3 linked regions of the Homo sapiens genome follow. The protein of the gene in region 1 interacts with the protein of each later gene in a pairwise test. Each region holds a gene or a part of one and is shown in the gene's direction. Other genes may lie near its edges.

What was found.
Region 2: the proteins of HSD17B4 (region 1) and MVK come close enough for resonance energy transfer, tested with the Homo sapiens proteins (one large-scale study listed by BioGRID).
Region 3: the proteins of HSD17B4 (region 1) and CDK7 interact in a two-hybrid assay, tested with the Homo sapiens proteins (one large-scale study listed by BioGRID and IntAct).

The regions. Positions count from the first base shown.
Region 1 is NC_000005.10:119,455,465-119,459,115, forward strand, and holds part of HSD17B4 (peroxisomal multifunctional enzyme type 2), read left to right. Parts: intron 1-850; coding exon 851-904; intron 905-3,651. UniProt on the Homo sapiens protein: Bifunctional enzyme acting on the peroxisomal fatty acid beta-oxidation pathway.
Region 2 is NC_000012.12:109,590,794-109,594,444, forward strand, and holds part of MVK (mevalonate kinase), read left to right. Parts: coding exon 1-68; intron 69-447; coding exon 448-564; intron 565-3,651. UniProt on the Homo sapiens protein: Catalyzes the phosphorylation of mevalonate to mevalonate 5-phosphate, a key step in isoprenoid and cholesterol biosynthesis.
Region 3 is NC_000005.10:69,241,315-69,244,965, forward strand, and holds part of CDK7 (cyclin-dependent kinase 7), read left to right. Parts: intron 1-3,651. UniProt on the Homo sapiens protein: Serine/threonine kinase involved in cell cycle control and in RNA polymerase II-mediated RNA transcription. Cyclin-dependent kinases (CDKs) are activated by the binding to a cyclin and mediate the progression through the cell cycle.

The DNA.
Region 1 (3,651 bases):
CGAGATCATGCCACTGCACTCCAGCCTGGGCGACAGAGTGAGACTGGATCTCAAAAAAAAAGAAAAAAAGCAAAACTTTCTCTCTCTCTCTCTCTCTCTCTCTCTATATATATATATATAATTTCTTTTTGGATATATAAATTTACACCTTGTAGCTTTGAGTCAGAATTAAATATTTTCTGTATTTGATGACTGTGTAGTCAGGGTTCACTGTGGGATACAGAAACCACTAGATATTTTAAGCAGCAAAGGATTCAATACAGGCAATTAGGTTTTAGGCAGGTCTTCTTAGAATAACTCCTGAAACAATAGGAAATTGATCCATTAGAGGAGGCAATACCTCTGAGGCTGTCATTGGAGCTGTGCCACAGCCCAAGTAGCACTGGCACTAGGGACCTGAAGTATGGAAGCTGCCATCCAGGGATTAGGGAGCTGAATGAAGAAGTCGCTGCTATAGTCAGTTTCTGAATACCTAGGAACTTTCAAGAAAACTAGCTTCTTAACAACAACAGCCAGAACTCCCAGTAAGGTGGTCTCTGTCTCACTTACACCTTCTAAGTTTTATGCAGATGCATCAGATGGTGGAACCCAATTCACAGCATCCTAGCAGCTAAGTAGAATGGTAGGAAGTGGTAGTAGAATAGGTGGAAAAATACAGTTTTAAGCTTTCCAGCCTCTGCAAGCAGAAGAGAGTGGATAGGTTGAGAATGTCAGTGATAGGATAGGTTGAGAGTATCATTAAAATGTAATTAATTGTTCACCAATTTCTTTAAATGGGGATTGAGTTGAGCGGACCAAAAAAATTATGCTGACATTTCTTCAACTTTCTGATTATTTTGTTTTTGATTAGGATTGGGCCGAGCCTATGCCCTGGCTTTTGCAGAAAGAGGAGCGTTAGTTGTTGGTAAGTTGGTGTGTTTTTCTTTTTAATCTGTAGCTGATAACTGAAATACAATCTTTACAAGCTATCTTTGTCTTTCTATCAAATAATTTGTCAAGGTTGAATTTTATTATTAATTTTTACTTTTGCCAGAAGGTTTTTACCCCGACTAAGGCTGTCTGTCTAAATTACTTTTAAAAGGGAACCAGTTTCACAGAATTCCCAGCTTAACAGAATTGATAACGAAGGGCTAGGGGGTAGGCATGCTGGCTTGTGGCTATAACTCCAGTGACTCAGGAGGCTGAGGTGGGAGGATCGCTTGAGACCAGGAGTTCGAGCCTGCAGAGAACTATGATTATACCACTGCACTCCAATCTGGGTGATGGCGCAAAAAAAACCCTGTTTCTCACAGAAAAGGGTGGGGACAAGCATTTATTGTATAAAAGGAAATTCTTGACTTCAGTAAATTGTAGGCTGTAATTTTTTGAGACAGGAGGTTTGTCTACTGGTGCGAGATCAAAAGAGAGCCCCTGTAAGTGTATTGATAAAAGTAAGAAATAACTGAATTTTGAGAACTGGAAGTTTGGAGTCAAGGAATCTAAAGTATGGGTTTCTTGACTCTTTCATCAAAACTTTTCAGCTGGAAGTGTTTTAAAAAAATTTAATTGAGGGGGCAGTTACATGAGTTTTTGTTTGTGGAGGGGTCAGATGGAAGATACTGTATTGAAGAATCCTAAAGGTGGGAGGTTTTAGTAATCTGCATGGTTTGGACTGATCTAATGTGCTTGACAGTTGGTGTGGACACAGAAACGAATTTGTCCACAACTGAGCCTTTCTGGGGAATAACTAAATGGGTGCTAAGTGCAGGGGGATATGTAGGACCCAGTACTTATTAGCATATTTCCTGGGATAAAACTGTGGGCCCACAATGATCTTCTAATTTCAGCTTTCTGACATCTTAACGAGGCAATACAGAGAGACGAATTTTCATCAGTTTGTTCAGGGAGACACATATAACAAAAGAGTAAGCAAGCAACCAGGTTTTCTAAACAAGCCCTAAGCAGAGCACTTGATACACTTTTCTCCTTCATTGTGGATGTGTAGCTTATCTTTATGGAAGGAACACTGACGCTTTGGATGTTCCTTGTTTAAGATCATAGGCACTGTCTGCTAATCCAATCTGCTTCTTCTGGCAGGGATGAATTTTGACATTGTATTATTTGGACAGCGAGTATATATTTCAGGCCCACTTTGTCAGATTTTCCCAAGAATAGCTCATGTTGAGGCCTAAAGACACATGCTGTTACTATTTTTAATTTTCCTTCCTTTTTATGTTGCTATTTAGTTCTTAATATTTTTACCTTATATGTTTTTATTTATTTACATCTTTTCTGCTCAATTCCATAACGGCAAGGATCTTGTTTTATCTTTTGTATCTACTAAAGGACCTAGAATATTTCTTTGTGCAAAGAAGGTACTTTGTTCATTGGTTCTTTTATTGTTGATATACTTTTCTGGGGGAAGGGTGTGTTTGAGATTGGTTGAATACATTTCTTTTTTTTGTTCTTGACTAAGATATAAACTTAGTTTATAAACCTGTTTTGTAAAAAATTTTATAACAGTGTGTTCCTGTGCATCAATTTTCCTTTATTTCCCTGTTCCCTCTCAATTTCTTAAATTCAGATTAGGAGTATTTGAATTCTAAGAAAAAATTAAACAGAGATGCTGTGTCTATCTATTTTGTCATTGCATTATTATAGTAGAGATGATAATTGTGTCAAGTCCTGATAAAAGTCCAAGAATATAGAAGAAAAATATTTCATAAACTTGAATGAAGAGCCAGATTTAGTTTAGTATTAAGGAGGAGAATTCAATCCATGTGGAAGTGCAGAAATTTTGACTGATGTTTTCTATTCCTTTTTAAAGTCTGTGTCTTACCTGTTAGCCTTTTTACATGTACACCATAGACACCGTGTTTCCAAGTTGCATCACACACACTAATTTTTTTTTTTTTTTTGAGATGGAGTCTTGCTCTGTTGCCCAGGCTGGAGTGCAGTGGCGTGATCTTGGCTCACTGCAACGTCTGCCTCCGGGTTCAAGCAGTTCTCTGCCTTAGCCTCCCAAGTAGCTGGGATTACAGGCGCCTGCCACCAAGCCTGGCTAATTTTTTTTTTTTTTTTTTTAAGTAAAGATGCGGTTTCACCATCTTGGCCAGGCTGGTCTTGAACTCCTGACCTCTTTTTAGAAGTGGCATGTCACTTCTACCGACATTTCATTGGCCAAAGGAAATCATTTGGCTAAGCCAAAAGTTAGGGGCATCATTTAAGATAGTCTCCAATTTTGTGTTAATATGATTGCTATGTTTTATATTCCATAATATAAAGCTTATGGGATATTTAAATTTGGTATAAGAACTGCTAAGCCTTAGGCTGATACTGTAAAAAGGGACATTTGCTTTTGTGTAAATTACATCTTTCAGGAAATGCTTGTGCATTTCTTAAGTAGGTTATTGGGAATTCAGTAGTTTTGAGGTTTCCTCAGTAGGTGAGCTATATCTAGTTCTCTGAATAGTAAGTTTTATTTTGAGGACATAAACACAAGAAGGACTGACAAAAAGGAGCAAAAAGAACTCCTTAGTAAAAGAAAGGGAGTTCTACTCTTGAACTGAAGTAACACCTTTGGGTAAATTGAATTACAATCTTTTTAAGTAAGATTGACATGACTTTTCCGTGCTACAGTTACATAATAATGGTAAAGCTGAGTCTTAACTT
Region 2 (3,651 bases), on another chromosome or scaffold:
TGACCAACACCAAAGTCCCTCGCAATACCAGGGCCCTTGTGGCTGGCGTCAGAAACAGGCTGCTCAAGGTGACTCTTGTTCCCTTCTTGGGCAGGTTTCAGGAAGGCCAGGACACAATTACATCTGGATTTTCGAGGTCTCCCTCTGGCTGATGGGTTATAGGGGGTGTGGTGGGTGGTGGGGGCCCTTAGGGAGGTGGTTTTGGCAGAAAAGAAGGTACCGTCCGTGCCCGTAGCCTGGCCAGGAAAATGACAGTGGTCGGGCTCGTTAGACACACTGACTTTGCAGCTGGGAAGGCAAAAAAACAGGCTCAGAAGAGAGGTGGTTTCCCCAGAGGATGGGCACGGGCTGTGTGAACACCTCCTCCCTCCACCCCACTGCTGGGGCAGCTGTCCTGCATCTGCCTGCCCCCAGGCCTCACCAGCCGTTCCTTCTTTTTTTCTCCAGTTCCCAGAGATCGTGGCCCCCCTCCTGACCTCAATAGATGCCATCTCCCTGGAGTGTGAGCGCGTGCTGGGAGAGATGGGGGAAGCCCCAGCCCCGGAGCAGTACCTCGTGCTGGAAGTAAGAGCCTGTCTGCAGGAACCGGGGTTACTGAGTCCACACCACTGTCCAAGGCAGTGGCTCTGCAATCTGGCTGTGCTCAGAATCCCCCGGAAGCTAGCACATAGAGGTCAGGACCTGCCTCTGGCCTATGCTCTCAGCTGGGCCCAGGTCTGTGCGTGCCATATAAGCGTATCTTATTTTCAGGCCTCTTCCTGGGTGATTCCGAGTAATTGGGAGAGTGCAAGGGAGGCCAGGGCCTGGCTCGTGCTAAGTGCAATGGAAACAGGTTTGGGTCACTTCTAAGGAGCTCTGGCCCACGTAGGTAGATGGGGATGTGGCTGATGCAGAGTGCTCTGTCGGTGCAGGGGTGACTTCTTGGTCACTCTCCTGCTATTGCTAACTTCATGGGTGCATTCAACAACTACTTGTCAACTGCCTGCTTTGGGTCAGACAGATCCTAACATTGTTTTTTCATCATTGCAACCCCATCCACTGCCATTTGCATAATTCTAGTGTAGAGGTTGTGACCTGGTACTTTGGGTGTGATCAGGCCTGTGTGTGAATCCCAGCTCCACTTCTGCTGGACGTGTGGCCTCGCTAGAGTGTCTTAAGAATGCTCAGATTAGACGGGCGCAGTGGCTCACCTGTAGTATTAGCACTTTGGGAGGCCAAGGCAGGTGGATTGCTTGAGTCCAGGAGTTCGAGACCAGGCTGGGCAATGTGGTGAAACTCTGTCTCTACAAAAAATACAAAAGTTAGCCAGACATGACGGTACATATCGGTAGTCCCAGCTACTCGAGAGGCTGAGGCAGGAGGATCACTTGAGCCCAGGAGGTCAAGTTTGTAGCCTGGGCGACAGAATGAGACCTTGTCTCACACACACACAAAAAATGCTTGGAGTCTCATGGGTGACACGCAAGCACAATGTCTGGTGTGCTATGAGCTTAGGGAACCAAAGAGCCCAGGCTCCCCCTGGACACAGTCCACCTGGCCTGGTGAATATGGGCTGTTAGCCATCTGGCTGCCCTTGCAGAATGAGAGGATCGGGTGGCCCCTAGCTGCCGTGGCTGTGCAGCAGCCGTCAGTGAAGGGACAGGAGAGGGGCGTGCGGTCTCCATGTCACCACAGTCCCTCCCCGCGCCCCGCACTCTGTAGTCATTGCCTGGTGTCTCCCGGTCCCCCGTGGGCATTCGAGTCTGTAGCCCCTGTGCTGAGTGGAAGCTGCCACTAAAGCAAGCCTTTTACAAATGATTCTTTTCACTTGATCCTCACACCCACCTCCCTGTGAAGTAGGTGTCTTATCCCTATTTTACAGATGTAAAAACTGAGGCCTGAAGAGAGACTTCCCCCAAGGTTATCCAGCTAGTGAGTGGCCGAGCCAGGGGTCCAGCCGACGGACTGGTCTGTCCCTTTATTCAACAGATCTGTCATGAGCACCTACTATGTGCCAGGGCAGCGCCTCCATCGAATTCCTGTGTTTCGGCCCTCATTCCCTCAGTCTTTGTCTTCCTAGCTCTCAATTCCTTCCACATAGAAAGGAGGGAACACAGTCCCCCCGAGTAGGAAATCAATAATGATAGAATACTGCCTAAAATACACCCTGTCGAGTCCCTGGAGAATGCCACAGAACAGCACGTTGATTATACATTGTGTGTATTTTTGGCTGTGGCAGCCGCTGAAATGTGCAGCTCAGCTCCTGGACAGCTTTGCACTCAAACCAGCGAACTGTTCTCCTGTGTCACAACCTGTCATCTGATCCTTGACAGATTTTGGATCAGAATGTGACAGGTGTCTGGAACCTGCCTCGGCAACGTGACACCTGGTGCTCAGGCGCAGAGAGCGGCCCCCAGAAGTCTTCTCTCACATCCAGCCCATCAGGCTGGTGAGAGGCACCCGGGGCTGCCACCAGGCCATCATGCCTGTCTGCTCATTTGTCAAAAATGGTGAGCTTGGCGCAGAGCGAGGTATGAGGCAGGCTGTTGGGGAGGGCCACTCCAACCCTGCCTGACCGGCCATCCCCATGCGGGAGAGCTAGGTGGGCCTCCGCAGAGATGCCTCAGTGATTGGCAACTCCTGGTATACAGGCAATCCAGGTGCCCCGGAACAGAGCTTCACACGGAAGTGAGGAATGCCAGGGGGTGCTCTCAGAGGCAGGGTAGACAGGAGCTTCATGTCAGGCAGACCCGCCTTCCAGTGCCAGCTTGGTACCTACTAGCTCAGTGATCGTGGGCAAGTCACTTCTTCTCTGAGCCTCTGTTTCCCCTTTTGTAAAGTGGGGATGATGCTAACGTACCCATAAAAATACTAACAGCACATATCTCGTGCCAGGCATTGAACAGAAAACTCACCTTGTTTCGTCTCAGGGCAAAGAAGCAGATTTTTTTTTTTTTTTTTTTTTTGAGACAGAGTCATCTTGCTCTGTCGCCCAGGCTGGAGTGCAGTGGCACAATCTTGGCTCATTGCATCCTCCCAGGTTCAAATGATCCTCGTGCCGCAGCCTCCTGAGTAGCTGGGATTACAGGCACACGCCAACATACGTGGCTGATTTTTGTATATTTAGTAGAGATGGGGTTTCGCCATGTTGGCCAGGCTGGTCTCAAACTCCTGACCTCAAGTGATCCACCCGCCTCGACCTCCCAAAGTGCTGGGATTAAAGACGTGAGCCACCACACCCTGCTGAGGCAGATACTCTTATGACCCCGGTTTACAAGCAGGAGACAGACCCAGTGCAGAAGACCTTGCTCAAGGACACACGACCAAAAAGGGGCAGAGCAGAGACTCGAACACAGGCCTACTTGACTCCAAATCCCATGGTTTTTACTTCCTGATGGCTGGGACCGTGGCTGGGCACCCATCCTTAGAGCCCCAGCACGTTGTGGGTGTTTGGTAAATGAAATCTAACTACTGGGTGCCTGGGCAGTGGAAGCTGTGAAGTTTTATTTTTTCATCCACATGCATCTTGTTGGATCCTTAAAGAGCAGGAAGTTTATCCTGCATAACTGAAGAAACCTAGACAAACAGCTGTTTCCCTGCTTATGGCCTTGCTGGAGTTACACCTAGTTCTTATTCTGAAACCAGTCCCCAAGGCAGCTGTAGGGAGGCATG
Region 3 (3,651 bases), about 50 Mb from region 1:
TTTTTTTTTTTTTTTTTTTTTTTTGAGACGGAGTCTTGCTCTGTCACCCAGGCTGGAGTGCAGTGGCGCAATCTCGGTTTACTGCAACCTCCGCCTCCTGGGTTCAAGCAATTCTCCTGCCTCAGCCTCCTGAGTAGCTGGGATTACAGGTGCACACTGCATCACCACACCCGGCTAATTTTTGTATTTTTAGTAGAGACGTGGTTTCACCTTGTTGGCCAGGCTGGTCTCGAACTCCTGACCACGTGATCCGCCTGCCTCAGCCTCCCAAAGTGCTGGGATTACAGACATGAGCCAACGGGCCCGGCCCTCATTGTAGTTTTCATTTGCATTTTTCTGATGCTCAGTGATGTTGGCACCTTTTCTTATGCTGTCTGCCATTTGTATGTCTTCTTTTGAGAAATACCTACTCAGATCTTTCGCCCATTTTTAAATTGGATTATTAGATTTTTTTCATATAGAGTTGTTTGAGCTTCTTATATATTCTGGATATTAATCTCTTATCAGATGGATAGTTTGCAAATATTTTCTCTCATTCTGTGGGTTTTCTCTTCACTGTGTTGTTTCCTTTGCTCTGCAGAAGCATCTTAACTTGATGTGATCCCATTTGTCCATTTTTGCATTGGTTGCCTGTGCTTGTGGGGTATTACTCTAGAACTCTACCCAGTCCAATGTTCTGGAGAGGTTTTCCACTGTTTTCTTTTAGTAGTTTCATAGTTTGAAGTCTTCAACTTAAGTCTTTAATCCATTTTGATTTGATTTTTGTATATGATGAGAGATATGGGTCTAGTTTCATTCTTCTGCATATGGATATCCAATTTTCCCAGCACCACTTATTTATTTTGTTTGCAACAAAGAAAGAGTTTAATTGTCACAGGGCCAACCAAGTGAGGAAGACAGTAGATAATTCTCAAATCTGCCTCCCTGAGAATTCGGGGGCTAGGGTTTTTCAAGGATAGTTTGGTAGGCAGTGGGCTAAGGAATGGGGAATGCTGATTGGTTGGGTCTTGGATAAAATTGTAGAGAGTTGAAACTGTCTTCTTGCCCTGACTCAGTTCCTAAGTAGTGGTCACAGAACCAGTTGAGTCAGTTTCTTCATATGGGCTCCTGGTCCAAGTGGCACCAGTTGGTCCATCAAAATGCAAGGTCTGAAAGATACCCCAACCACCAGTTTTACGTTTTACAATAGTGATGTTATCTATAGGAGCAATTGTGGAGGTTGCAAAATTCTTGTTACTTTTGGCTACATAACTCCTAAACAATAATTCTAACCTCGTGTAATTTTACAAAGATGCTTTTAGTCTCTGAGCAAGGAGTGGGTTAATTTTGGGAAAGGACTGTTAATCATCTTTGTTTTAAAGCTAAACTTTAAACTGAATTTCTCCCATAGTTAGCATTGCCAACACTCAGGAATGAGCAAAGAGCTTGTGAGATTAAAAGCAAAGATAGGGCCAGGCGCAGTGGCTCATGTCTGTAATCCCAGCACTTTGGGAGGCGGAGGCAGGCGGATCACCTGAGGTTGGGAGTTTGAGACCAGCCTGACCAACATGGGGAAACCCTGTCTCTACTAAAAATACAAAATTATCCGGGCGTGGTGGTGCATGCCTGTAATTCCAGCTACTCTGCAGGCTGAGGCAGGAGAATTGCTTGAACCCAGGAGGTGGAGGTTGCAGTAAGCTGAGATTGCACCTTTGCACTCCAGCCTGGGCAACAAGAGCAAAAACTGTGTCTCAAAAAAAAAGCAAAGATGGAGTCAGCTATATCACGTTTTACTCACTGTTGTAATTTTTGCAAAGGTGGTTTCAAAAATATGCCTTTTTGGCATGTTGATTGTTGTGAGCTGGTTATCCTGAGAAACTGCAGATACAGGAGTAGTTCTGAAAAGTTGCCCTTTTTTAAGGGAAGTGTACGTTTGTAAAGGAGTATCTCTTTGACAGGGTGTCTCCCTCTCTGCACCAGGAAGAGAAGAAAGACTAGAAAGACTAAATCTCTAGAGACTGTCAATGCAGAAGGCATCAACTTAAGTCTGTACAGCAAACCTAACCTCTGCTTAAGGCACAGCACCATTTATTGAAGAAACTGTCTTTTCCTCATTGTATGTTATTGGCACCATTGTTGAAAATGAGTTTGCTGTAGATGTATGGATTTTTTTCTGGGTTCTCTATTCTGTTCCATTGGTCTGTGTGTCTGTTTTTATGCCAATATCATGCTGTTTTGGTTATTATAGCTTTGTTGTATGAAGTCGGGTAATGTGATTCCTCCCTTTTGTTCTTTTTTCTTAGGATAGCTTTGGCTATTCTGGGTCTTTGTGGTTCTACACAAATTTTAGGATTGTTTTTCCTATTTCCATGACGAATGTCATTGGTATATTGATAGAGATTACATTGAATCTATAGATTGCTTTAGGTTGTATGGACATTTTAACAATATTGATTCTTCCAATCCATGAATATGAATTATCTTTCCATTTTTTTGGTGTGTTGTCTTCAATTTCTTTCACCAATGATAGTTGTTTTTTTTTTTTTTTTTTTTTTTTGAGATGGAGTCTCGCACTGTTGCCTGGGCTGGAGTTCAATGGTGCAATCTCAGCTCACTGCAACCTGTGCCTCCCGGGTTTGCGCCATTCTCCTGCCTCAGCTTCCTGAGTACCTGGGATTACAGGCGCATACCACCACAGCTGGCTAATTTTTTGTATTTTTAGTAGAGACGGGGTTTCACTATGTTGGCCAGACTAGTCTTGAACTCCTGACCTCGTGATCCGCCTGCCTTGGCCTCCCAAAATGCGGGGATTACAGGCGTGAGCCACCATACCCGTTCAGTAGTTTTTATTTTAGAGATCTTTCACTTAATTTGGTTAATTCCTAGATATTTAATTTTATTTGTAGCTGTTGTGAATGGGATTACTTTCTTGATTTCTTTTTCAGATTGTTCACTGTGGGCATATAGCAGGGCTACTGATTTTTGTATGTTGATTTTTGTATCCTGCAACTTTTGTGAATTATCAGTTCTAGTCGTTTTTTGGTGGAGTCTTTAGGTTTTCCCAAATATAAGATCATATTGTCACCAGGTGTGGTGGCTCATGCCTGTAATACCAGCACTTTAGGAGGCCGAGGTGGGCGGATCACCTGACCAACATGGAGAAACCTCGTCTCTACTAAAAGTACAAAAAAAATTAGCCAGGCATGATGGCGCATGCCTGTAATCCCAGCTACTTGGGAGGCTGAGGAGGGAGAATTGCTTGAACCTGGGCGGTGGAGGTTGTGGTGAGCCAAGATCACACCATTGCACTCCAGCCTGGGCAACAAGAGCAAAACTCCGTCTCAAAAAAAAAAAAAAAAAAAAAGATCATATCGTCTACAAACAAGAAGAATTTCACTTCTTTGCTTGCTCTTGCTAGGACTTCCAGTACTATATTGAATAACAGTGGTGAAAGTGGGCATTCTTGGTGTGTTCAAGCTCTTAAAGGAAATCAGTTTTTCCCCATTCTGTATACTGACCATGGGTCTGTAGTATATGGCTTTTATTATGTTGAGATATGTTCTTCTATACCCAGTTTTTTAAGAGTTTTTATCATGAAGGGATGTTAGATTTTATCAAATGCTTTTTCAGCATCAATTGAAATGATTATATAGTTTCTGTCCTTCATTTGTT